Linked DNA regions of Homo sapiens. The protein of the gene in region 1 interacts with the protein of each later gene in a pairwise test. Each region holds a gene or a part of one and is shown in the gene's direction. Other genes may lie near its edges. The genes, in order: MAGEL2 and IRS4.

Region 1 (12,821 bases):
GGGGAGGGGAGGGGATGAATAGGTAGAACATGGAGGATTTGGGAGCTAGGAAACTATCCCGTGTTATACTATAATGGTGGATGTATTACATTAGACATTTGTCAAAACACAGAATGTACAATACCAAGAGGAAACTTAATGTGAACTCCAGACTTTGGGTGATAATGACATGTCAATTGATGTTCATCAGCTGTGAGAAGCATACAATTTTGCTGGAGGACGTTGACATTGGGGCAGATCGTGTGTGTGCTGGGGGAACCAAGGGGTGTATGGAAACTTGCTGTAGTTTTGGCTTAATTCTGCTGTGAACCAAAAACTGCTCTACAAAATAAGGTCTATTTGATAAGAAGAAAAACATGAGTTACCAGGCCACAAAATTAGGAATATTAAATGTGTATTGCTAAGTGAAAGAAGCCAATCTGGAAGGCTACACATTTTATGATTCCCACTACATATGATATTCTGGAAAAGGCACAACTATGGAGAAGGTAAAAAAAATCAAAATTTGCCAGGGGTTTGGTAGGAGAAAGCACAGGTTTTTTAGGGCAGTAAAATTCTTCTATATAATAATGCAATGGTGGACACAGAAATCTGTTATCACACAATTGTGATAACCCATTTATCACACAATTGTGTGAAAACCCATAAAATGTATACATAAAGAGTGAATACTAATGTAAACTAGGGAGTTCAATTAATGATATTGGCTCGTTGACTGTAACAAATATACCGCTCTAACGCAAGACATTAAAAATAAGGGGCATTGCCAGGGGTAGGGGGACAGGGATGGTGGGAGAGGAGAGGGGATACATGAGAAGTCTCTGTACTTGCCTCTCATTTTTTCTGCAAACCTACAACTGCTTTAAAAAATAATCCATTAATTAAAAAGAAAAGACACAAACAAAACTCACAATAAATGACATACCATTTCTCATTTACTGAACTGCCTAAAATACTGAAATGCCTAAAATAAAAATGGCTGACTGACTGTATCAATTTTGCAATGATGTGGATCCATTGGAACCCTCATATTTGCTAATTGCAGTGTAAAACTGCAATCACCATTTCACATCCAGTTGAATAACAAAAATCAAAAAAGACTGACACTACAAAATTTTGCAAGGTTGTCAAGTACCTGGAATTCGTATGCATTCTTAATTCTTAACATTATTCTTATGTTAGAGTGTAAAATGGTCTAACCCAACTATGGAGAACTCTTACAGTTTCTTATAAACAGCCGTCTATCCTATGACCCAGACATTCAACTCCCAGGCATTTACCCAAGATAAATGGAAGCATATATTTACAAAAGGCTTGTAAAATAATTTGTAATGCAGCCTTTTTCTCATAATAGCATCAGATTTTAAATGTCTCACATGCCAACAGGTAACAGATAAATTATGGAGTTATAAATACAATGGAATACTTTTCAGCATAAAAAATAGCAAACTTCCAATACTTGCAACATATTTACATTAAAAAATGTTGAACAAAGGAATATTGACCTCTATCTGTGTGTCTTTCTCTCTCCCTCCCTCCCTCCCTCCTACGCTGATTCCATTTTATGAATTTTTAGAACAGGCAAAATAATCTAGGGTGAGAGAAATAAGGAAGTGTATGTTTTTGGAGATAGAATAATTGACTGGAAAAGGGTGCACGGTAATTTTGTTTGATAATAAAACTATTATTTATATTGTTTTGAGTGTTAATTACTCAGTGGCAAAGCTCATTAAATTGAATACTTTAGATCTGTGCATGTTGTTGCATGTTAATTATATCTAACATATTTTAAAAGGTTTTGGCAGCCCTGGTGTAATGGTAAGAGTGATGGGCTGGGCACAGTGGCTGATGCCTACGGTCCCAGCACTTTGGGAGGCCAAGGTTGGGGGCTCACTTAACCCCAGGAGTTTGAGGCCAGCCTGAGCAAAATAGTGAGACCCCATCGCTACGAAAAACAAACGAACAAAAATCACCTGCGTGTGGTATGGCCTGTCTGCAGTCTCGGCTACTCAGGAGGCTGATGCAGGAGAATGGCTTGAGCCCAGGAGTTTCAGACTGCCGTGAGCTATGATCATACCACTGCACTCCAGTCTGGGTGAGAGAGCAAGACCCTGCCTGGTGGTCAGCGGCAAAAAGAAAAAAAAAGAATGCAAGCTCTCACAACGAATAGATTGGGATTTAAATCTGAATTCTGATATGTATTGCTAGATCTTCTGAGCCTCAAATTCTTGCCATGTAAAATCAAGCCAAATACTTATGGATTTTGTGAGAAATCAATGAATAGAGTCTATTATACTCTGAGGATGGTATTTTATCAAATAATAAATTGTTGATAACTAGTAGTTACACTATTTTAATCCTTCCAATTCTTTTTTTTTCAAACCTCATACTTATGATATCTCCTATGCTTTTTAAATAATTTTTCTACTTAGACTGTCTATCTGGATCACATGAATCTTTCACAGCCTCAGGTTTGTTTTCTTTCTTTTCACTGCTACAATCAGCATCACAGCTCCCCTCACCCCATGTTCCAAGCAGAAGTGAGTATTTGATTATTTTCATCCTCTATGACCAATATGAGGTTTAAACAATGCGACAACACCTTATTGTACTAAAAAACCATATGAATATCCCTATATGACTAACAATAGATTCGTGAAATGTCCCTATGTGACTAACGATAGATTAGATTAATGTCCCTATGTGACTAACAATAGATGTAAATAGGACTTGCATCAGATTTTTCTCTGTAGTCTTATCTATAGCACAGTGCTGGGCATATAGTGAATGCTTAATAAAAGGTATTTCATAAATAAGTAATTTTAGAGTTTATGAAAATCATAACTGATTTTGTTACTCACTTATGAATATTTACACAAAGTCTAACAGCTACAGAAGATTGGAAGACAGGCAGTTCTGGTGCTAATCTTACCATTTCATTTTGTAGCTCCTTAGTGACCACTCAATGCGAGCTGGGGATACCAAGGTGAGCAAAACAGGCTCCCGTCTGCTCCTAGTTCCGCAATTTTCCTACTCCCATCACAATACTTCAGTTCTCCCTTCCCTGTTTTTAAAAATCATTTTGTATACTGCTGTTATATACTGACGTAAGCCATTAAAAGTCCTTTCTAATTAGGGAACAGAGGCCAACATTTCATGGATGTTTTGTATGTTTTTCCCTTTTGTTTTCTACTCACCTTGAATTTTCAAGCTGTTTCATATAAAAGTGAGGAAAGGGAATTTTGACAACACTTGGTTCAAAGGTGTTGAGGAGGAAGAACATATGCACAGAAAGGGAAAGAGGGCTTCAGGAAGCAGGAAGGTTTCACAGGAGTGATTTGGGAAGACCCAACACTTGTGGTCTAATGCCTCACTAGACTCAGGGCAATATTATGTTTTGCTGTGATTAAGGCAGTCAGTTTTCAAAAACGACCCGTATGTCCCTGTTTCCTCAGGTGAATTTTGCTCACAAGTAATTTGTAAATAGCTAGGGAGAGCCCCAGGAACAGCCTGGGTCTGAGAGCACTGACTATCTGAAATAAGCAGATGTTTCTTCCAGGGAGAATAAACTGGGTTTACCCTCTTTACTTGTTCCTATAGAATCAATGGATACATAATCTCTGATTTTTCCCTGCCGGTTAAAGAATGTTTCCAAGCAGTGGCAATAGTGCTGGTGTAGAAGTTATTCATCTTCCATTTCTAACTACTCCTACGCACCTGTTTTTTCCTTTGTATAATGCCTAATCTTTTCTTTCTGGCTTTGGTGTTGCCTCTTAACATAAACCGGACCTCTTTTCATAGAACAGATTCGGTGGGAGTTGACACTGTATGTCAGTGCTATTCACTGACCTCCAACATCAGTGAGAATAGCCAGACCCTAGTGGGAGCCATTCATTGTGTGGGATGACCAACAGCATGGTGGACGGCAGGACAAACCTGTCATAATTCCCGAAAATAAACGGTTAGTGGGAGAACTTAATCTCTGTGTAGTTTATACATTTGCATTAGAGTGGAAAAAAAGTATGCTTTAGAAATGCCCTAGGCTAAAAAATAAACTGATTTTTCCAAAGCCATCCATAGCCAGTAACAGCCATGTAGCAGAGTTGATAATAGCAGGTCCTGAGGGTTAGGCATTTAGAGTTTGTCCTTCTACAGTGTTTCCAAACCCCCATGAAACTGAGAAATCCTGTGTGGATCTGGGCCATTAACCCAAGGGAGAAACGAAAACCATGAAACACGGTAGTATCCATTCTGCAGAAGCTTTTTGTGTGCTGTGGTAGATGGCCTTCTCTGGGGATACACAGGAGTGATGTCCAGTAGTCCACCCTTATCCTTGGGGGATATATTCTGAGACCCCCCTGTGGAGGCCTGAAACTGGAAATAGTACTGAATCCTATATGTACTACGATGTTTTCAACTGATAGCCGAGACAGCTACTAAGTGAATAACAGGCGGGTAGCATATACAGCATGGATACACTAGACAAAGGGATAATTCATGCCCCAGGCAGGACGAAACAGAACAATTTCATAATACTACTCAGAATGGCATGCAATCTAAAGCTTATAAATTATTTCTGGAAATTTCCATTTAATTTTTTGGACTGCATTTGATTGCAGGTAACTGAAACCACACAATGTGAAACTGCAGGCACAGGAGTGCTACTGTATTCGCTACCTGCTCATTAACCACTTAGTAGCTGCTTCAGATATCAGATCTACCATCGGTTTCCCAGTGTTTGTGTTCAAGGAACCCTTGTTTTACTTAGTAATAGCCCCAAAATGTAAGAATAGTGATCCTGGCAATTTAGGTATGCCAAACGGAAGCTATGAAGTGCTTCCTTGAAGGAAAAAGGTGAAAGTTCTTGACTTAATAAGGAAAGAAAAAATCGCATGCTGAGATTGCTAAGATATATGGCAAAAACAAAACTATCTGTGAAATTGTGAAGAAGGAGAATGAAAGGGATACATGGTATATATAAGGTTTGGTGCTGTCTCCAGGTTCGGGCATCGAGAGTTTTGGAATGTATCCCCTGCAGGTAAGGTGGGGGGGGCTACTGTATCATCAAGCACCCTTAAAAATCTGACTGTTTTGAAAAGAGTTTCCTGGGAATAACAACATCCCTTAAGTGTCCAGAAAATCACTGAAACTTTACCCCCAAATTCTTCTATTATTGTTTAAGGCAATAATAACATTGGGAGTGTGTACATACCTTCTCTTGGGTCCATAAATTACCAAATTTGAGGACCCCTGGCTAAGGGTACCTGGGAAGGAGTGGGGTGTACCCTTCATCGTCCTCATCTGCCCCCTGGTGGCACGTTTTGTCACTCTGGACTCCTGCCGTAGGCTGCCAACAGCCTATTTAAACGAAACATCCTTGATATTTAGTGCTTTGTATATTTCCAGAAAGCTTTTCAATTACTGAGATTATCACTTCCTCTCACCATAAAGTTGTATAGCATTGCCCAATAATACTATTGTCATCTGCTTTATCTGTTAATACTTGATTTGTCTCATATTTAAACTGATTTTTGTCACGAGAAGTTTCCCCAGAAATTTTTTTATTCTTTGCCTGTTTTTCCTATATATCCAAATATATCAATTTTTGATCTATTTATATACCCATTTTGTTATCTTCAGGTGCGTTATTTGGTTTTCATTTTTTAAATTTCTTTCCCATTCTGCAGATGAAAAATACTGAGAAACCTACTCTGTTCCTGCATCCGAGCCATTCCACAGGCAGTTTTCCCATACTAAAAATGCTGTCTTCCACTGATGTGTGGCATGTCTCAGTTCCGTGACTTCTTTTCCTCTCTCTCTACTCGCTGCTGTCCCTTTTCTCCATGTGTCTCTAACATGCCTGTGTTCTTCAAGACCCAGTGCAACCACATTCCCTCCCACAACTCTATTTTCATGAGGAATAGCCAAGCAGGACTCCCAAGACATCATACAGGAGTGCCTACAGGGTATCTCTCCTTGGCAGTCCCACAGCACCGCAAATGCCCTGTGTCTGCCAATACTCATCAGCCTCTCTTCCCGTGTGCCTCTCCTGGGACCCTAAGAGAGTAACAGTCCCTGCAACTTCCCACTTTCTCCAGGCAGGGACTTGTGTGCCTTTTCCATGTCTTTGACTCCTTTATTCAATTATAATACAGGTATCTGTCTGCTATAACTCCTGGAACTCTCTTATGTAAATGCGCTTTTTTCATTCTCCGCCTCACATCTTAGCCCAGACCACACCATCTCCCCCCGCCGTCTTGGATACCTTCCATGTTTCCAGTGGTCTGCTCCCACTCCACACTGCAGTACAGTGATTTTTCTAAAACATGGATGGGTTCCTGTCACTCCCCTGTGAAAAGTCATCCATGTGGAGTCTGACTGGTCTGCATTTGGGGACTGGACAGAGTGAGAAGGGATCCTGTGTCAGCCAGGACTCCGGTAGACGCCCCTATGCAATATCCACTTGTGGTGGTCGGGGGCGGGGAAGGGGCGGGATTGAGCCCCCTTCCCCCCTCCTCCTTACTGCGGAAAGCTGCGGAGCGAGCAGCACTCACTTCCTATTCAGCATTCAGCAGGGAGGGAGCCTCTGAACAGCCACGTAGGCATTCTCTTCTCTCTGGAGGAAAAGGCCCAGCAGCTGTCCGAGGAAAAGACCCACCAGCTGTCAGCAAAGGGACATGTCGCAGCTAAGTAAGAATCTGGGTGACTCGAGTCCTCCGGCGGAGGCCCCGAAGCCGCCTGTCTATAGCCGCCCTACGGTTCTGATGCGGGCCCCGCCCGCTTCCTCCCGGGCTCCGCCAGTCCCTTGGGATCCACCTCCAATTGACTTGCAGGCTTCATTGGCCGCTTGGCAGGCACCTCAGCCTGCCTGGGAGGCCCCACAGGGCCAGCTGCCCGCCCCGGTGGTTCCGATGACCCAGCCTCCTGCCCTAGGGGGCCCGATAGTCCCGGCTCCCCCGCTGGGGGGCCCGATGGGTAAGCCTCCGACTCCCGGGGTCCTGATGGTGCATCCTCCACCTCCGGGAGCCCCGATGGCCCAGCCTCCGACCCCGGGAGTCCTGATGGTGCATCCTTCAGCTCCCGGAGCTCCCATGGCCCATCCTCCTCCTCCGGGGACCCCAATGTCCCACCCTCCCCCTCCGGGGACCCCAATGGCCCATCCTCCTCCTCCGGGGACCCCGATGGCCCATCCTCCTCCTCCGGGGACCCCGATGGTGCATCCTCCTCCTCCGGGGACCCCGATGGCTCATCCTCCCCCTCCGGGGACACCGATGGCTCATCCTCCCCCTCCGGGGACACCGATGGCTCATCCTCCACCTCCGGGGACACCGATGGCTCATCCTCCCCCTCCGGGTACACCGATGGCCCAGCCTCCAGCTCCGGGAGTCCTGATGGCCCAGCCTCTGACTCCGGGAGTCCTGATGGTCCAGCCTGCTGCTCCGGGAGCACCGATGGTCCAGCCGCCTCCAGCAGCCATGATGACCCAGCCTCAGCCTTCAGGAGCACCGATGGCCAAGCCTCCAGGTCCAGGAGTCCTGATGATTCATCCTCCAGGTGCGAGAGCTCCGATGACCCAGCCTCCAGCTTCAGGAGCACCGATGGCACAGCCGGCGGCCCCACCTGCACAGCCGATGGCCCCACCTGCACAGCCGATGGCTTCTTGGGCCCCGCAGGCTCAGCCTCTGATCCTGCAAATCCAGTCTCAAGTTATAAGGGCTCCTCCGCAGGTTCCCCAGGGCCCGCAGGCACCCCCAGCGCAGCTAGCCACACCCCCGGGCTGGCAGGCGACCTCGCCAGGATGGCAGGCCACGCAGCAAGGCTGGCAGGCCACTCCCCTGACTTGGCAGACCACGCAGGTCACCTGGCAGGCACCAGCCGTTACCTGGCAGGTGCCGCCGCCCATGCGCCAGGGGCCCCCGCCCATCCGCCCTGGCCCACCACCCATCCGCCCTGGCCCACCACCGGTGCGACAGGCCCCACCGCTGATCCGCCAGGCCCCACCGGTGATCCGCCAGGCCCCACCCGTGATCCGCCAGGCCCCACCCGTGATCCGCCAGGCCCCCGCTGTGATCCGCCAGGCCCCACCTGTGATCCGCCAGGCCCCACCTGTGATCCGCCAGGCTCCACCTGTGATCCGCCAGGCCCCGCCGCTGATCCGCCAGGCGCCGCCGCCCATCCGACCTGCCCCACAGGTCCTGGCCACCCAGCCACCGCTCTGGCAGGCCCTGCCACCCCCACCTCCACTGCGGCAGGCCCCGCAGGCTAGGCTGCCGGCCCCGCAGGTGCAGGCGGCGCCGCAGGTGCCTACGGCCCCACCTGCTACGCAGGTACCCGCGGCGCCGCCCGCTGGCCCGCAGGTGCCCCAGCCTGTGCTGCCGGCCCCGCTGTCTGCCCCACTGTCTGCCCCGCAGGCTGTGCACTGCCCTTCCATCATCTGGCAGGCCCCCAAAGGTCAGCCCCCGGTGCCACACGAGATTCCAACGTCAATGGAATTCCAGGAGGTGCAGCAGACACAGGCGCTGGCCTGGCAGGCCCAGAAGGCCCCCACTCACATCTGGCAGCCCCTGCCTGCCCAGGAGGCCCAGAGGCAGGCTCCCCCCTTGGTCCAGCTGGAGCAGCCCTTTCAGGGAGCCCCGCCCTCCCAAAAAGCCGTGCAAATCCAGCTACCCCCCCAGCAGGCCCAGGCATCGGGTCCGCAAGCGGAGGTGCCCACACTGCCGCTCCAGCCTTCCTGGCAGGCACCGCCTGCAGTCTTGCAGGCCCAGCCCGGACCCCCGGTAGCAGCGGCAAATTTTCCCCTGGGCTCCGCTAAATCATTGATGACTCCATCAGGAGAATGCAGGGCCTCTTCTATAGACCGCAGGGGCTCCTCTAAAGAGCGCAGGACCTCCTCGAAGGAGCGCAGGGCCCCTTCAAAAGACCGCATGATCTTTGCTGCCACCTTCTGTGCTCCCAAGGCAGTGTCAGCTGCGCGAGCACACCTGCCAGCTGCCTGGAAAAACCTGCCTGCCACACCGGAGACCTTTGCTCCCTCCTCAAGTGTCTTCCCAGCTACCTCCCAGTTTCAGCCTGCCTCTCTGAATGCCTTTAAAGGCCCCTCTGCTGCCTCAGAGACCCCAAAGTCACTGCCATATGCTCTGCAGGATCCCTTTGCCTGTGTAGAGGCCCTGCCTGCAGTTCCATGGGTCCCACAGCCCAATATGAATGCCTCAAAGGCATCGCAGGCAGTGCCCACCTTCCTGATGGCTACAGCAGCTGCCCCCCAGGCAACTGCCACCACTCAAGAGGCCTCCAAGACCTCCGTCGAGCCGCCACGCCGCTCCGGCAAGGCCACCCGGAAGAAGAAGCATCTGGAAGCCCAAGAGGACAGCCGTGGCCACACGCTAGCCTTTCATGACTGGCAGGGCCCAAGGCCCTGGGAGAATCTAAATCTGAGTGACTGGGAGGTCCAAAGCCCTATCCAGGTCTCGGGTGACTGGGAGCACCCAAACACCCCCCGTGGCCTGAGTGGTTGGGAGGGCCCTAGCACCTCCAGGATCCTGAGTGGCTGGGAAGGGCCCAGCGCATCCTGGGCCCTGAGTGCCTGGGAGGGCCCGAGCACCTCCAGGGCCCTGGGTCTCTCTGAAAGCCCAGGGAGCTCTCTGCCCGTAGTTGTGTCTGAGGTCGCAAGTGTCTCTCCGGGATCCAGTGCCACCCAGGATAATTCCAAGGTGGAGGCACAGCCCTTGTCTCCCTTGGATGAGAGGGCAAATGCGTTGGTGCAGTTCCTCTTAGTCAAGGACCAAGCCAAGGTGCCTGTCCAGCGCTCGGAGATGGTGAAAGTCATCCTCCGAGAGTATAAAGATGAGTGCTTAGATATCATCAACCGTGCCAACAATAAGCTGGAGTGTGCCTTTGGTTATCAATTGAAAGAAATTGATACCAAAAACCACGCCTATATTATCATCAACAAGCTGGGCTACCATACAGGGAATTTGGTGGCATCCTATTTAGACAGGCCCAAGTTTGGCCTTCTGATGGTGGTCTTGAGCCTCATCTTTATGAAAGGCAACTGTGTCAGGGAGGATCTGATCTTTAATTTTCTGTTCAAGTTAGGGTTGGATGTCCGGGAGACAAACGGTCTCTTTGGAAATACTAAGAAGCTCATCACCGAAGTGTTTGTCAGGCAGAAGTACCTAGAGTACAGGCGAATCCCTTACACTGAGCCCGCAGAGTATGAGTTCCTCTGGGGCCCTCGAGCATTCCTGGAAACCAGCAAGATGCTTGTCCTGAGGTTTTTGGCCAAGCTCCATAAGAAAGATCCACAGAGCTGGCCATTCCATTACCTTGAAGCGCTCGCAGAGTGTGAGTGGGAAGACACAGATGAGGATGAACCTGACACCGGTGACAGTGCCCACGGCCCCACCAGCAGGCCCCCTCCCCGCTAATAGGTGTAGCAGAGATCTCGCTCCTGTGTTTCCCTGGCCAGAGGCCACTGACAGGGTGGGGGGACATTTTTGTTCCTGGTGTTTGTGTTCCAGTTCCACGAGTGTACGTTTGGATTTTCAACTTGGTTTCGTATCTGCCAAAGCTTTGTACATTTTTTATGTGGTGTTGATTTCAATCGGCTACTGTTCTGTTCTGTATTTTGGCATCTGTGTTTTTAAGTGAGATCTGTGGTTCTCTGTTTTGTGTTTTAATTGTTATGTTTTGGTATCAGCTTTGTGCTGGCTTTGTGAAATGAATTGAGAAGCTATCCATCTCATTTCTGGTATAGTTCATGTAGCATTGTAATCGGTTGTTCTTTGAACGTTCAAATGACTCATCAGTAAAAACTGTCTACAGAGAAGTAAATATCTATATCTATATATATAAATATACTTTCAGCATAACAGAAGTGTTTGTCTTTATTCTAATTTTTACACTAGATGGTGGAAGCCAAGTTTTGCCGTATTCTCTGAATAGACATGAATAGCAAGACTACTCTCAGTTATAGTAAAAACCACGGTGATGGAATTGTTTTCCAAGGAGAGTACTCCATTCATCTTTATAAGGATGCAGTGATTTCAGTGGGTGGTTATACATAAGATTTCTCCAGGAGATTAATTAAAGCACACACGTTAGTGCCCAGCTGGTAACGTTGTTATTAGAAGCAGAAATGTCCTTAAGGGTATGTGGAGAAGAAGGGCCATCTGCCTGCAGGACTACAAATAACCAGGTGGTCCCGCTTCATGGAGAATTTGGCCAAAAGGGTATTTGTCAATCATGTGGCCCGTGGCGGGGTGTCCAGCAGTTCAAATTTGGGTTTCATCAACACACTGCTACCGGGATGGAAACGTGCTCCCTGCAGGATATCCAGGCTTATAACAGGGAAAAGGAAAAAACAGTCTTCATTTAATTAGAAACCCTGCAGATTGCCAGCAGTAGTGGCTGGGTTAGGGGAGGGCGTGGCAGGGTGCATTCCTATCAACATAGAGTTCTAGGGGAAGGTCCTGGGGGGAAGGGTCATTCTAACTTGTAGGGGAAGGCAGCCGGCAACGCCTGAAGTTGCTGAACAACCGCGGTCAGCCCTTGGCTATGAACCTGGTCTAGGCAGGAAAGGGACAAGGGAATGAACTGGCCTGAGTGTTTTGAGGAAGGATATTCAAGCACACACCAGGCTGGTGTACACAAAAGGACGTTCTTGTGGTCATACTCTCTTCCTGTGGACAGGGGACCATCAGCCCTACTTGCCACCGCATACTGTCTTATCAGAAGGAAGAAATCCAATCCCATATCCCGCTTCTAGGGTGAAGCCAAAGTCCCAGATGCGGTTAGTGGCGATGGTGGAATTCTCCTGCCACCTAGCGGCAGATTAGAGGTGCCACCGCAGCTGCCGCAGCAACAGCCCCTCCCACAGTGCTTAACTTCACAACCATGTATATACTTGGATTGCAGCTACTCCTTGCTTCACCACTTTTGCTCATAATTTTATCTATATCTGTGCCCAGAGATTCCTTCTTTTCTCTTATAGGCCAAGGTAGCATCTGTTTTCAAGTCCAATCCGCTCTTCACTCAACAATTTCTATCCTTGGTCCTGCAGCGCTGCCACTTAGGAAGCTGACTAGGAGAGGAGCCCACAAGATGCAGACTCTACTCCTAGCACCCGCAGAACTGAGCTTTCCAGGACGATGATCCCCGCCCCAGGACCTGCCAGGCCGCAGGAGCTCTTTCTCAAGTTGTCTAAGTGGTCAGGTAGTCCAAAAACTGGGAGGCAGTTTCCTATAAACTCCTTGGGTCAGAGAGTCCTGCGCATTTGTCCGCAAGCAATGTTTACTTATTTTTACAACAACAGCAAATGTCCATTGAAGGAGACAGCAATGCCCCAGCTGAGAACTGTCCCCAAAGGAGGTTTTGCTGGGCCAGTAAAGTGGCATATTGGTCTAGTATTTCTTGTTTGTGTTTAGTTTATTTATGATTGCTTATAAAGTTTTCTCCAGACCATTAACTCATGGCGTGCCTGAGCAAGATGCTCTTTGTGGAACAAAATTTGGGACTTTGTTCCAAATTTGGGACTTTGTCCCATCATGGGACTTTGGTGCCATACTTAAGGTGGGGGCTGGCTCTGCTCCATGGTAGAGAGGCTTACTTCCCAGCTGCAAACCTCACTCTCACACGTGACATATATCTAATGGCCTTCTTTAAGTAATGCCAAGGACTTAAAGCCTAAATTTGTTTATATTGTAATGAGATATAAATTGCAACAATGAAAAATGTGTTCATTACCAATGAGTAAACTAGTTAGATATTCAACTGAAAAGTTTAAGAAAGTGCAGCTAACATGACAGTGAAAAGCAGAAAAC
Region 2 (11,922 bases), on another chromosome or scaffold:
AAAAGAGAGAGCAATACACCAGCTCCCTCTACTCAAGGACTACCAGATTCGTGGGGCATAATTGCTGAACCCAGACAGTCAGCCTTTTCTAATTATGTGAATGTTGAGTTTGGAGTGCCATTTCCAAATCCAGCAAACGACCTCTCAGATCTTTTAAGAGCTATACCACGTGCCAACCCCTTATCTCTGGACAGTGCTAGGTGGCCACTTCCTCCCCTTCCCCTCAGTGCTACAGGTAGCAATGCTATTGAGGAAGAGGGTGACTACATTGAAGTAATTTTCAACTCAGCAATGACACCAGCCATGGCTCTTGCTGACAGTGCCATTCGCTATGATGCTGAAACAGGTCGAATCTATGTGGTCGACCCATTTTCTGAGTGCTGTATGGATATTTCTCTCTCCCCCAGCCGATGTTCTGAACCACCACCTGTAGCTAGGCTGCTGCAGGAAGAAGAGCAGGAGAGAAGACGCCCACAAAGCCGTTCTCAAAGTTTCTTTGCAGCAGCCAGAGCCGCTGTCTCTGCTTTTCCAACAGACAGCCTCGAGAGAGACCTTTCCCCATCCTCAGCCCCGGCTGTCGCTTCGGCTGCAGAGCCGACTTTAGCCCTCAGCCAAGTTGTAGCTGCGGCCTCCGCGCTCGCCGCAGCCCCGGGCATCGGCGCAGCAGCCGCAGCTGCTGGATTTGACTCCGCCTCTGCCCGCTGGTTTCAACCTGTTGCTAATGCTGCTGATGCCGAAGCAGTAAGGGGAGCCCAAGACGTTGCCGGTGGCTCGAACCCTGGAGCCCACAACCCATCTGCAAACCTTGCCAGAGGTGATAACCAGGCTGGCGGGGCTGCCGCTGCAGCTGCCGCTCCGGAACCACCACCTCGCAGTCGCCGGGTGCCAAGACCCCCGGAGAGAGAAGATTCTGACAACGACGACGACACTCACGTGAGAATGGATTTTGCCAGACGTGATAATCAGTTCGACTCTCCCAAAAGAGGTCGGTAATTTTAGAATTAATTTCCCTAAAGTGAATGGTCATTGTCTAATGATTCGATGCGCTACAGTCTACAGTGTTAGGGATACTATTTCATTAACTGGTGCTATTCGACATGGAGTATAGAATTCAGTTTTAATTATTCACAAATGCCTTTTTGATCTTTGCAAAAATTTGTTTTTATCTAATCAATTTCTTTATCTGGACAGAACTGATTATCATTTAAACACTGGTTCTACTTTTTTAGGAGTAGTTAAAACGCAGACATAAAAAGCATAAGGATACTTTTAAACATCCTTCCCCATCATTTAATGATAATGTAAAGCAGGATATCGTAAATTGGGTTCCACCAACTAATTTTCAAATCAACAATTAAAAGCTGCTTTTCTGCAAATGCCCATATTTAAGTGTAGGAATTTAATAAGAGCACAGACTATTAAGCAGTAATAATCAACTATTTATGTTTAGGGAGGATAATTTTCTCCTCTGAAAGTTACTTTTTAAAGAGCAGTCGTTGTTGTGCTAGTTTGCTGTGATTTACCAAGAAAGTTAAATCTCAATTGTTAACGTGAATGTCTGGGGGGAACAAAACATAAATAATCCAAAACAGGAGGTGATTAAAAGAAGACAGTATTTGGCTCTGGAATGTGTTTGTGTGTTGATTTTCTTTTTGTTTTTACACAGGATAAATTCCAGAAACCTTGAGTGTTCCTTTTCTCTGTCACTAGTAATGACAGGCAAGTCACATTTGCTGTGCCTCATTTTCTTCTTTTAACCCCCCACCCTTCTAAAAGAGGGTGTGGTGACAACTTGAGAATGGATATGAATATTATTTCAAAGGTTTAAAAAGCAGTTAAAACATTTAATTCATATATCTTATGGGAAATCAAGGAAAGCAAGATAAGGCTGGAGGAAGACCTGACTCCAGGGGCAGCTTACCCTGGAATGGTGGAAGTTTTTAAAGGGCTACTTTTCCAAAGGAAGAAGTAAGGAAGAGTAGGAGCTGTCAGACTTGGAAACAAGACTTAGAGTAATTCTACTGTGTACAACATTGTGGAATGTTGTCATCAGTGTGTCTTGAAACATTTTCAAGAGATGATTGCAGAGGATGATGTCTCCATAGTCTCAACTACCTTGCCTCTTAAGTAGAATATGCTTCTTTCCCAGTGAAGGGAAGGGATGGACCCCAGCAGTTTTCATTCCAGTAGTCAGTTTAGTGAAGATTTTTGCTTTGCTTGCTTTGTGGAATGCTTTTGTGATTGGATCTCTGCCCACTGTGCTTGATCAGGCAGAACAAGTCGGGCACTGATCACAACAGTCACCTAACAAGCTCCCTATTTAATGCAGGTGTAGCCCCCCCACATCCCCTTTTTCTCCCTGCTATAGAAAACTTGCCATACACAAACTCACATTTGCAGCGTGGACACATTAAAGAGTGATCATTAAAACAACAAAAGGATGCTTTGGCTTGCCAAAGGATTCAATTCAGACCTCTTTTAAACTGTGAGTTCCCTCCCCAACACACACACATACACACACACACAAACACACATGATCACCACTGCTACCATAATCATACGTTTAAAATATATAATTTCATTTCCAAGTCTTTAATCCATAATAAGATTTTCAAGAGTAGATCTACTTTATTCTGTAGAATATACCTGAAAATTGATCTCAATCTATTGTTTGAGTCTAACTATTGAAGACACCATTTATAATTTTGATGTAGATGATACACAGTTGCCTGTGTCCCTGTAGTACTTTCAAAAGGACCAGTTTTCATAGAGGTTTATTTTAAGAAGTTTAAGATTTAAATAGTGAAATCTTACTGTTCCTTGAATAAATTCTGACTTCCCAAGGAATACCTAGACACAATGATCATTATTTTAGCATAAATTCCTGATTTATGACTTTGTAGCTATTTTGGAGATTTAACATTCTGTAAATGCATTGTTTATTGAGGAAATTCCTAGCTTTATTGAGTGACTTTAGCAAGGAAGCTCTATCTCACAGGGAGGCAGGCGCTTAGGTTGAAATAAGAGAATCAACGTGGAAGCACTTTGGAATGTTAAAGCACTTTACAAATGTAAGATATTTTTAGTGTCATTGGATTAATACTGAAGTGAAATTTCGGCAGTTTAAACTGATTCAGTTTCTTGCAAAATAATTGATCTTGAGGGTGATTCCTGCACATAATTTGCTGAAATACATGAAAGGAATGGTGGGGATTGCCGGCGGGGGGGTGCGGGGGTGGGGGTGGTGGTGGTGGTGGTGGTGGTGTTGATGGTGGTGAAACAACCCATTGTAGGAAATGACTTTGGTTAGCATTTTAATGTAAATTGTATGGTAGAATGTTGTCTGTGAAGTGTTAAGAACAAGCTGAATGATTCTGATCCTTTTTTATTGTAAAGCTGTAGAATAATTTTCACTCATTTCTGATCTCTATTTTCCTATCTAACATTAAAACAAAAACAATCACGTTAGGAAACAAAAACATAATGCTTTGACAGAGGAACAAATACCATCTTTATTAGAAGTTATGTATTTCAAAAAGTCATTTTAATTGATGGCAGGTGCTTAGAACAGTGCCTGGCATATAGTAAGTACTATACATGAATTATTTTACAGTTATTGCCATTGTTATTGTTGCTACTGTTATTATTACATTTAGAAAAACAAACCTAAATTAAGATTCTCCATCTGAAAATCTCACTTTTCAGTTAGTCTTTACTTGCATTTAAAATACTTTACATTATTGTTCAGTTGGCATGTTTATAGATTACCATTTAAGTGAAGTGAGATTATAAATCTGTGAGACAGCTGTTCTCATGTAACACAAAATTAATATGTAATTCCATTTACCTACAGTCACATTGCGTATAAGTAAGTACAGTAAAGGAATTTACTCAAGTCGATTAGAAAGAAACACCCAGAAGTATAACCTTAGACATGACTGTATTAATAAATGAAATAATTTTTAATCATTTATTAAAGATGAAGTCTTCACATTTTAAACACATAGGTTATAGGCATTAGCATTTAGGAGAAGAATGTTGTTTCTTATGCAGTTTAGTTTGACTGTTAACCTATGTATGACTATTTGCTTCTTTTTCTACCTTACCTGATGTACAATTCATAGTTCAAAATGACTTGAGGTGAACATTTTCCTGGTTTTTTTATTCAAGAGATGGGAGGATATAAAAGGGCAGCTCTAGGAGGGGTGAGAGAATCGGTCAGCCAAATTAGTAATGTTATGATGGCACTTGGTATTAAAAAGCAAAAAAAAAAAACTTTAGTAATTAATTTTTCAGTGTTAGACACTGTTATCACCATGAAGGAATCATGCTTCTTTTGAGTGTACTACTGCCAAACTTGTTGCTATCAGTTATAGGCACTAAGAGCACATTGTTTTTATTCCATTGAAGTTAATTATTATAAAAATTTCCATATAGCAGAAATTTCCCAGCTACCATTGACGGATCATTTATTTTAGGTAATATTCAACACCTCAAAATTGGACAGTGTTTGGACTAATGAGGTATTTGTCCTCTAACAATTAAAGAGGACTTCACTTAATTAAAGTTAACTAAAGTTGTTCACAATCATTATTCATTTGCATTCATTCTATTTTAAGAGTGATGTTTTCAGGGTAAAAATTTCAACTACTAGCAAAATACTTACCTTAAACAAGGACCAGAACTTTAATTAAGCACACCAGAATGTCACACATGTATAAAAATTCGAACGAGATCTCTTACTTTCTTTTTCTCTCCCTAATCCCCTGTTTTGGGAACAAACTTAGGCTTCTCAGAGTGACAAAAAAATAATTCCTGTGGGAATAGATGTGGCTGACGAGTGTAGGGAGAACTAAGGAATAGTTTATGTGATTTAAAAGGGTCTATTGTTAAATTGTCAAATTGTTGATTGAGGAAATGCTTTCCAGTTGCAGATTGCCTTATAGTTTGCAAAGCACATTCACATTCATTATTTTACTGATGGATGGTAAGTACTGGAAATGAAGCCCATGTTGAGAATTTTCCCAAGATCAAAAAGGTAAGTGGCAGAGCTGAAAATCTAACTCATACATCTGATTTCAAGTCCAGCACTCCACCCAACACATGACACCTCCCTTTAATCAGGTGTTTAGTCTGTTATTTTCCCACTGGTGACAGATTATTACATGGTTAATGATTAGGAAAAAATTACAAGTTTGCTTTCACTTGATAGTAGCAAATTTTGTTGTAAGTAATTCATTCAGAGCATTATAACTGTGGACTATCTTCCAGGACCTGGGTAATTTTATTACATTGAACTGTTTGCCCTGGCTCTTAGAATAAAAGAATTTGACTTGTGCTGGAATTGAATGTTTTAAATCTGATATAGGGAGGAGTTGGTTAATCTTCACTGCCCAAACACAAATAGTGTATGTATCTATTTAGATCCCACAGAAACATTGAAAGGAAAGAAAGTGAATTGAGGGTGCATTCAGTAAATTTCCATTAATGGTCATTTCTTTAACTGAAGTTAGATTTCTTTGATTTTCCTAATAATTCATTGACATTTGGGAGTTATAGCAAAAAGTCTTTTCATTTAATTTCTTCCTTCATTATAAAATTTGGTATTCTGATCTAAATCAGCACAGTAGGCAAAACAGGATAAAGTAAGACAGGTGGAAGAATAAGCAGTGTAGCAATAGACGTTCTTCATTTGTTTAAAAAGTGAACTTGCTTTTGGCAGTCAGGCAAGTAGATTTTAGAAGCCTTGAAAATCAAACTCTCTCCTTGGGACATAGAAATCCCTGTTTACAATTAAGTTCATTTTGATTTAGCACCTTTTTTAAGGCTTTAAGAGTATATAAAAATAGCCCAGACGTTTTATTGGCAGTATTGGAAAATAGCTTTTGTAAAATGCTTAATTAAAACTTTCAGTATATTTTCTCTAAGAGGTGCTGCCAGACTCTTAGATAGTGAGGATCATTTACTAGAAAACGTTGCTTGGTCTTGAATGAGAAATGAGAAATTTAAGACACTGCTTTTTATAATAATGAAATAAATACATCACAAAGCACTGAGTTTTTGCCACAATCATTGGATTGCTGATTTTAAAGCTATTGATAAAATTGCCAAGAAAAATGTGCTTGCCATATGAACTTAAAATATATTCTCCAGCAATTCTGCATTGATTATTGGTAATGTAGCTACAGGTCTCACATTTCCACCTTATTTTGGAAAAATAGACTCAACACTTGAGAAATAGGAATGTTTAAAGATGTTTCTAGTGTAAATTATATACTGTTTTAGATATGCATTTTTAGAGGGTACCTTTCAACTTCTGGCTGAATAATTAATTTCTTTTAGAATGGAAAACATGTACTTAAATACTTATTAAGTGAAATGAGAAAGTTACTGCTATTTTCTCTTAGCTTCCTGATACCTCTTTCTTATTGGTTAGGGTTGCATTGGTTGTGTTCTGTGAGTCTTACCCTCATGTGCCCTTTGCCAAACTTGTGCCCTTGAATTCAGGCAAACATGCCCTTTCCTGGTCTCTCTCTGGCTGAAAAGGTGAGGGCCACTGTGGGAGTCCTGCAGGGCCCATAGAGGGCTTCGCCAGATGTTGATCACTCCCAGTACACAGCCTTCTTGCACTTAGCTTGCAGAGGCAACCTTCCTTGTAGGGATCCTTGTTGTACAGATCCAAGGCTGTGCTGCCTGCCCTACTGTCACTTGGCACAGAAGCAGCTGGGCCGGTGTTTAAAGCTATTTTCATGGTTGGATTGATCACAATATGTTTGATGCCAGCCACACCTTCTGGATTTACCGAATATCTAATTCCCTATATATTGTAGTCACTTTAGCTAGTTTTGACAATTTATATAATTTTTCTCCTATGATTAATAATTTCCTACTTATAGACTTGAAACTTAGAATAACAGTGAAGTTTCCATCTCACAATTAATCTTGAAAATTGCTCACATGTGTATCCATGGGGCCCTTGAAAGTCTGACCAGCAAATGTGATTTTTTACTCTTGCTTTTTAAAGTTTTATGCCTCCAGTCTTGAAAGCTTACCAACCTTGTCCTCGCACTCAGAGTCCTGTGCCCCCACCCACCTCCATGATGAAGTCCTTATTGTTGCTGCAGCTTTTACCATAGTTTCCCTTCGGCTGTCACCCTGCCTCCGACTCTTCCAACTGGTTGAGTATGGGGGACACAATTCCTATTGCCATGGCTGGAAGACATATATTCCTGGAGTCTCAAACTGAAACTTCACATACATCTTCCCTCAGAAATGATGACTGGGTATAGTCAAAATAGTTCTCTGTTAGTTCAGGAGTTGCATAGGTTAAATATAGGCATATCTAGACAAAGCTATAAACCTATCCACCATTAATTTATGACATTGTTTCTACAAGATAATTTATTCTGAGTTTCAACTAAACAATGACCTTGGAATATGTCTGTTTTGTAAATTTGAAACTGCCTATATTAGAATTCTAGTAACTTGCATTCTTTAAGTTGGCAGTAACTAGGCAGCAGAGTGAAGTGGCCCATGTGTGTGTTGGGAAGTAGTGGAGAAGCTGACCTACCATGAAAATCCTGTAGCTGATCTCCATAGAGTTTGTATCCAGATACTCAAGACTGGAATGCACATGCATAAGTGGCCCAGGGCCTGCTAACAAAGGGCAGGTGTAAAACGATTGAGCTGACCTTTGAGGAGATGGGGGTTTACAAGTGTCATACATTTCCCTTACAGATTCTTTTGAGCATTCTGTCCCAAAACTATTGCCATTGTGGGAACAAAGGTATTTTATCATCCGATCTATGAAGGAGATAATAGTCTGGTATAATTGGTGTTGTAAAGACTAGCAGCGATTATTACTAGTTTTTAGCCTTGAGCAATAGCACTTAATTTTATCAAGTCCTAGAGAGTCATCCTCCTCTACAATCACAGGGCACAGAAAAGTATGATGATCCTTTCTTATTGAGAAAAAACAAAAAAACCTACATATACTCCAGAGACAATGCTAAGCTAACTAATATAATTGCATTATTATACATTCATCTTTGGCATGTATGCTTCAACATATCTTTCTTTGCTTCCCTTTTTTTTTTTTTTTTTGGTGCTTTACTTGGTTGCCCCTGCTTATGTGAGCTCCAGTTGATCACAGGGGTGCAGGGATAGCATGTTGTCAAATGAACAGAGTGAGGAATTTGCAAAAACCCTTGAAAAACATTTTTGAGCTCCAGGAAAATTGGAGCTGAAAAGATAACTAAGACAATAAGTTTGCAGAAAGGGAAAAGAGAATGAGAGAATAACAATATATTGTTATAGGTTCACCTTTCTCTGAGCAGAGGAAATACTGCTGTTTCGGACTTCAAAATGTAATAGAGGCATATTTATGATTCATATAAAGAGGTCTGAAATACCCTGGAGGAACTGCCTACTTGGCTCACCCTACAAATTTCCAGGGATATTGAAGTCATCTGTGCATTATTAGCGTATTAAAGATTAATGTTCAGGTTTATATCATTATATAACTCGAAACAGAAAAGTTTACTTCATTTGTTTTTGAGAAAAAAAAGTTCCCTGCCAGATTTTGGTAGGAGGAGTAGGGAAATATTTTGACTCATCAGAGTCCACTGAGGTTTTCTATATTACAGAGAAAAATTACCTGAAGAGTATACCACCCATTAAAAAGGGTGAAATTAACTTGTTGTTTAAAAGACCTTTGATTAATTGGGAAAATAAGAATATACAATAAGGTAAGTATTTATAACCTGTCAGTATCAAATGGGAATAATACATCCAAAACAGACCACATTATTACAAGCATCACCATTTACCTTGCTGATGGTGAAATCACATAAAAATGAACGGGAGACAAATCTAAGGTATGACTTTTAGCCCTTTAATATTCATTTTGCAGACTGTTCACAACCAAGTTTTAATCTCGAATTGCTTTCCTTTGCCACCCAGCAAGCTTCTGAGTTGCTTCCTTACGCTGTTCTTTGGAATGTGCCCCGGGAATGTAAACTCATTTTAATATTGGCCTAAGTAAAATAGGATTATAAAGGCAAATCTGTGGCTCAAGTTCCCATAATGCATTTCAAAAGCAAGTTAAATTATTTTGGGATTATCCTGTTTGGGATAACATTATTCCTTTCTACTAGCATAGTTAATCAAGAATTGACAAATGTATTTTGTGAAGTAAACATGAAATTACACAATTATTTGTCACTTTTTATTAAGTTACCAAACATTCACTTAATGCTGGTGTAGGTGTTATAGGAAAGCAATGGCAATATGAATCAAATTTTAGTAGAGGCTCTGTCATTTAAAAAAAGGAAAGAGAAAGAAAAACAACTCCAATAAAAGCAAATGTTCCTAATCTTAGTATAATGCCAATAGGGTAGTTATATGGAGCTTAATTTGCAGGTTTCTGGGAAAATATATATGAAATCCAGTGTATCATATAAGACAGCAAGAAGTCCCTTTTAAAGCACATGCAATGTGCTATATATGGACATATGAAAATATTTTTGGTATTAAAACAAAATAGTAAACTAAACTAGGTGAAATACCTTCCTAACCTTAAATATCTATTTTAAAATGTAGCTGATATCTGATAACACTGTAATACTGGTACTGGTCTAGCCTAATTTTGCAGCGAATTAACAGTTACTAATATGCAGTCTCACAGTTAACTGTGGTTATCACAGACTCCTTTCTTCCTGTGTAGAACTAGATACATAAAATGTAAAATTTCCTAAACCCACTGCTGACAGGAAAGCTTAATACCTTTACTAATCTATGGCATTTTTTTGAGACAGGGTCTCACTCTGTCACCCAGGCTAGAGTGTAGTTGCGCGACAGGGTTTCACCATGTTGCCCAGGCTGTTCTTGAAATCCTGGCCTCAAGGGATCCACCTGCCTTGGCCTCCCAAAGTGCTGGGATTATAGGCATGAGCCACCATGGCTAGCATTTTTTTAAACTTCTAATCTACAAGAACAAACCTATACATTGAATCTTAATGAAGAGACACAACTAGTAAGAGGGAAATGTACTGTTCCCACTCAGTGCTTCATCCAGCTGCAAATTTGTTACATTTTAAAAATCCTTGAGCCCAGGAGTCTGGGTGGGGCTGCAGTGAGCCATAATGATGCCACTGCTCTTCACCCTGGGCAGCATAGTGAGACCTCATCTCTTTAAAAAAATTGTAAAACCTTTGATGAGAAAATGAATACTTAAAATGTATATTTCCAGTTTAATAGACAATCTTGTACTTGAAGCCCACTCTGGGGGATGTTTTCCATGGATTCTTTTAAGATGTCTCAAATAAAATAGAATACTTGGTACTTTGTGGTGACCTGATCTTAAGGTAACACTGGCATCCCATAATCAATTTGCTGATCATTTATTCCTATCCCTTCTCTGGTCCAGCACCTTCTTCTATGTATCTGATCACCCCCTGCCACACTCCCCATTATGCACCCACTCAAAAGCAGAAAGCCAAGAGAATAATGCTGGAACTTTTTTCTTTTATTAAACAGATGGGAATTTCAAGTCTCCTTTGCAGGTATGACTTTGTTCTATTAGAAGAAATTCAATGATTGAGTCTAGAGACCATCACCAATGCTGTACTTAAATCCTATGACTTGTGCCACATAACCTGGTGAAGGCAGAGTCAAACATGTAGAAGAAGAAGAAAAAAATCTGTTTCTCTGCACAATGCCTGGCTCACTCTTGGGCTCCACTGGAAGAAAGTAGAACAGTGCACGCACGTGCAAAGATGCTGTCCACCAGAAATGTCAGTGACAGCCTGGGGGCAAGAAGAATAACTGCCCTTGTGTCTTTGCCCAGCTGATATTCCTCACAGGCAGCCAGCAGAGTTGATTAACCATGTCCATGCCCAGGCAGTCTCCTCTGTATATCTCTCAAAAACTTCTAGTTAGATTTTGTTTTGTTTTGTGTTGTTTTGTTTTAAAACAGGGTGGGGGTGACAGCTCTCCACATTAATTCTGCAAGTAACTTTTGTTTTATTATCTTTTTCCTAGAGTGATTATATTGCCACAAAAACACATTTTAGAAGAAAAGTGATGCTTATGGAATTTTATCTTCGTCTACTCCAGATCTGCCTAAAGGAAAGAAAACTCAGAGGCTTCTGAGTAGAAAGCAACCCAAATTTCTACAAGCCTACAAGTGGACTCTGGCAATTGAATGATCCTATTCATGCAGATCATTCATACTGCTGCTTATGGATCCAGTGATTTCTAATTAACAATATTTACACTGTGCTTTGTTTTTTGTTTTCTGGTTTTCCTCCCCAGTCTGTCCCTTTGAAAGGAAACAGATACTATACAAGTGAGCATCTCATAACTCTTTCCCTCTTTAAAAAAAAGTAACTTAGAATACATATAAATTTGGTCAATGCCAATTTTAATAATGTAAAATATTTAGATTCAATTTTGAAGTTGAAAAACTTTAAACCAGGGCACATAAAGAAAAAACAGCTGTCATAATTGGAAGGAAGGTATGATCTGGAATCTTTTTTCCGAGTATTACACACACAAAACATTTCTTGATCAATGAATTAAATGTCAACTGAACTGATATCTTGATGGGGCATTACCAGTATTTTAAAGGCAGGACTAAAGGGCAGATTATTTCAAGTTTTGCTCATTAGCAAAACTGCAACATTCTGCTCATGTTATATGTCAATGAAACTAATATCTTGATTGAGCATTTCCAACATTTTAAAGGCAGAACTGAGAAACAGCTATTTGTTCACATACAACACTGTGATGTTCTGCCTGAAAATCGATTGAGTATTTCCAAACCTATTATTTTTCATTTATTGTGAAACCTACATTTACCTCCTAAAAGAAACAAAGCTCTTCAAAAGTCTCTTCCCAAGGCCCCTCCCTGCTTCTCTGGGC

The links.
Region 2: the proteins of MAGEL2 (region 1) and IRS4 interact in a two-hybrid assay, tested with the Homo sapiens proteins (one study listed by BioGRID).

Annotation. Positions count from the first base shown.
Region 1 is NC_000015.10:23,641,599-23,654,419, reverse strand, and holds MAGEL2 (MAGE-like protein 2), read left to right. Parts: upstream 1-6,552; 5' UTR 6,553-6,677; coding exon 6,678-10,427; 3' UTR 10,428-10,871; downstream 10,872-12,821. UniProt on the Homo sapiens protein: Probably enhances ubiquitin ligase activity of RING-type zinc finger-containing E3 ubiquitin-protein ligases, possibly through recruitment and/or stabilization of the Ubl-conjugating enzyme (E2) at the E3:substrate complex.
Region 2 is NC_000023.11:108,721,642-108,733,563, reverse strand, and holds part of IRS4 (insulin receptor substrate 4), read left to right. Parts: coding exon 1-985; coding exon of another isoform or gene 986-993; exon of another isoform or gene 994-1,067; intron 1,068-1,666; coding exon of another isoform or gene 1,667-1,671; exon of another isoform or gene 1,672-10,536; coding exon of another isoform or gene 10,537-10,562; exon of another isoform or gene 10,563-11,040; coding exon 11,041-11,045; coding exon of another isoform or gene 11,046-11,151; 3' UTR 11,152-11,922. UniProt on the Homo sapiens protein: Acts as an interface between multiple growth factor receptors possessing tyrosine kinase activity, such as insulin receptor, IGF1R and FGFR1, and a complex network of intracellular signaling molecules containing SH2 domains.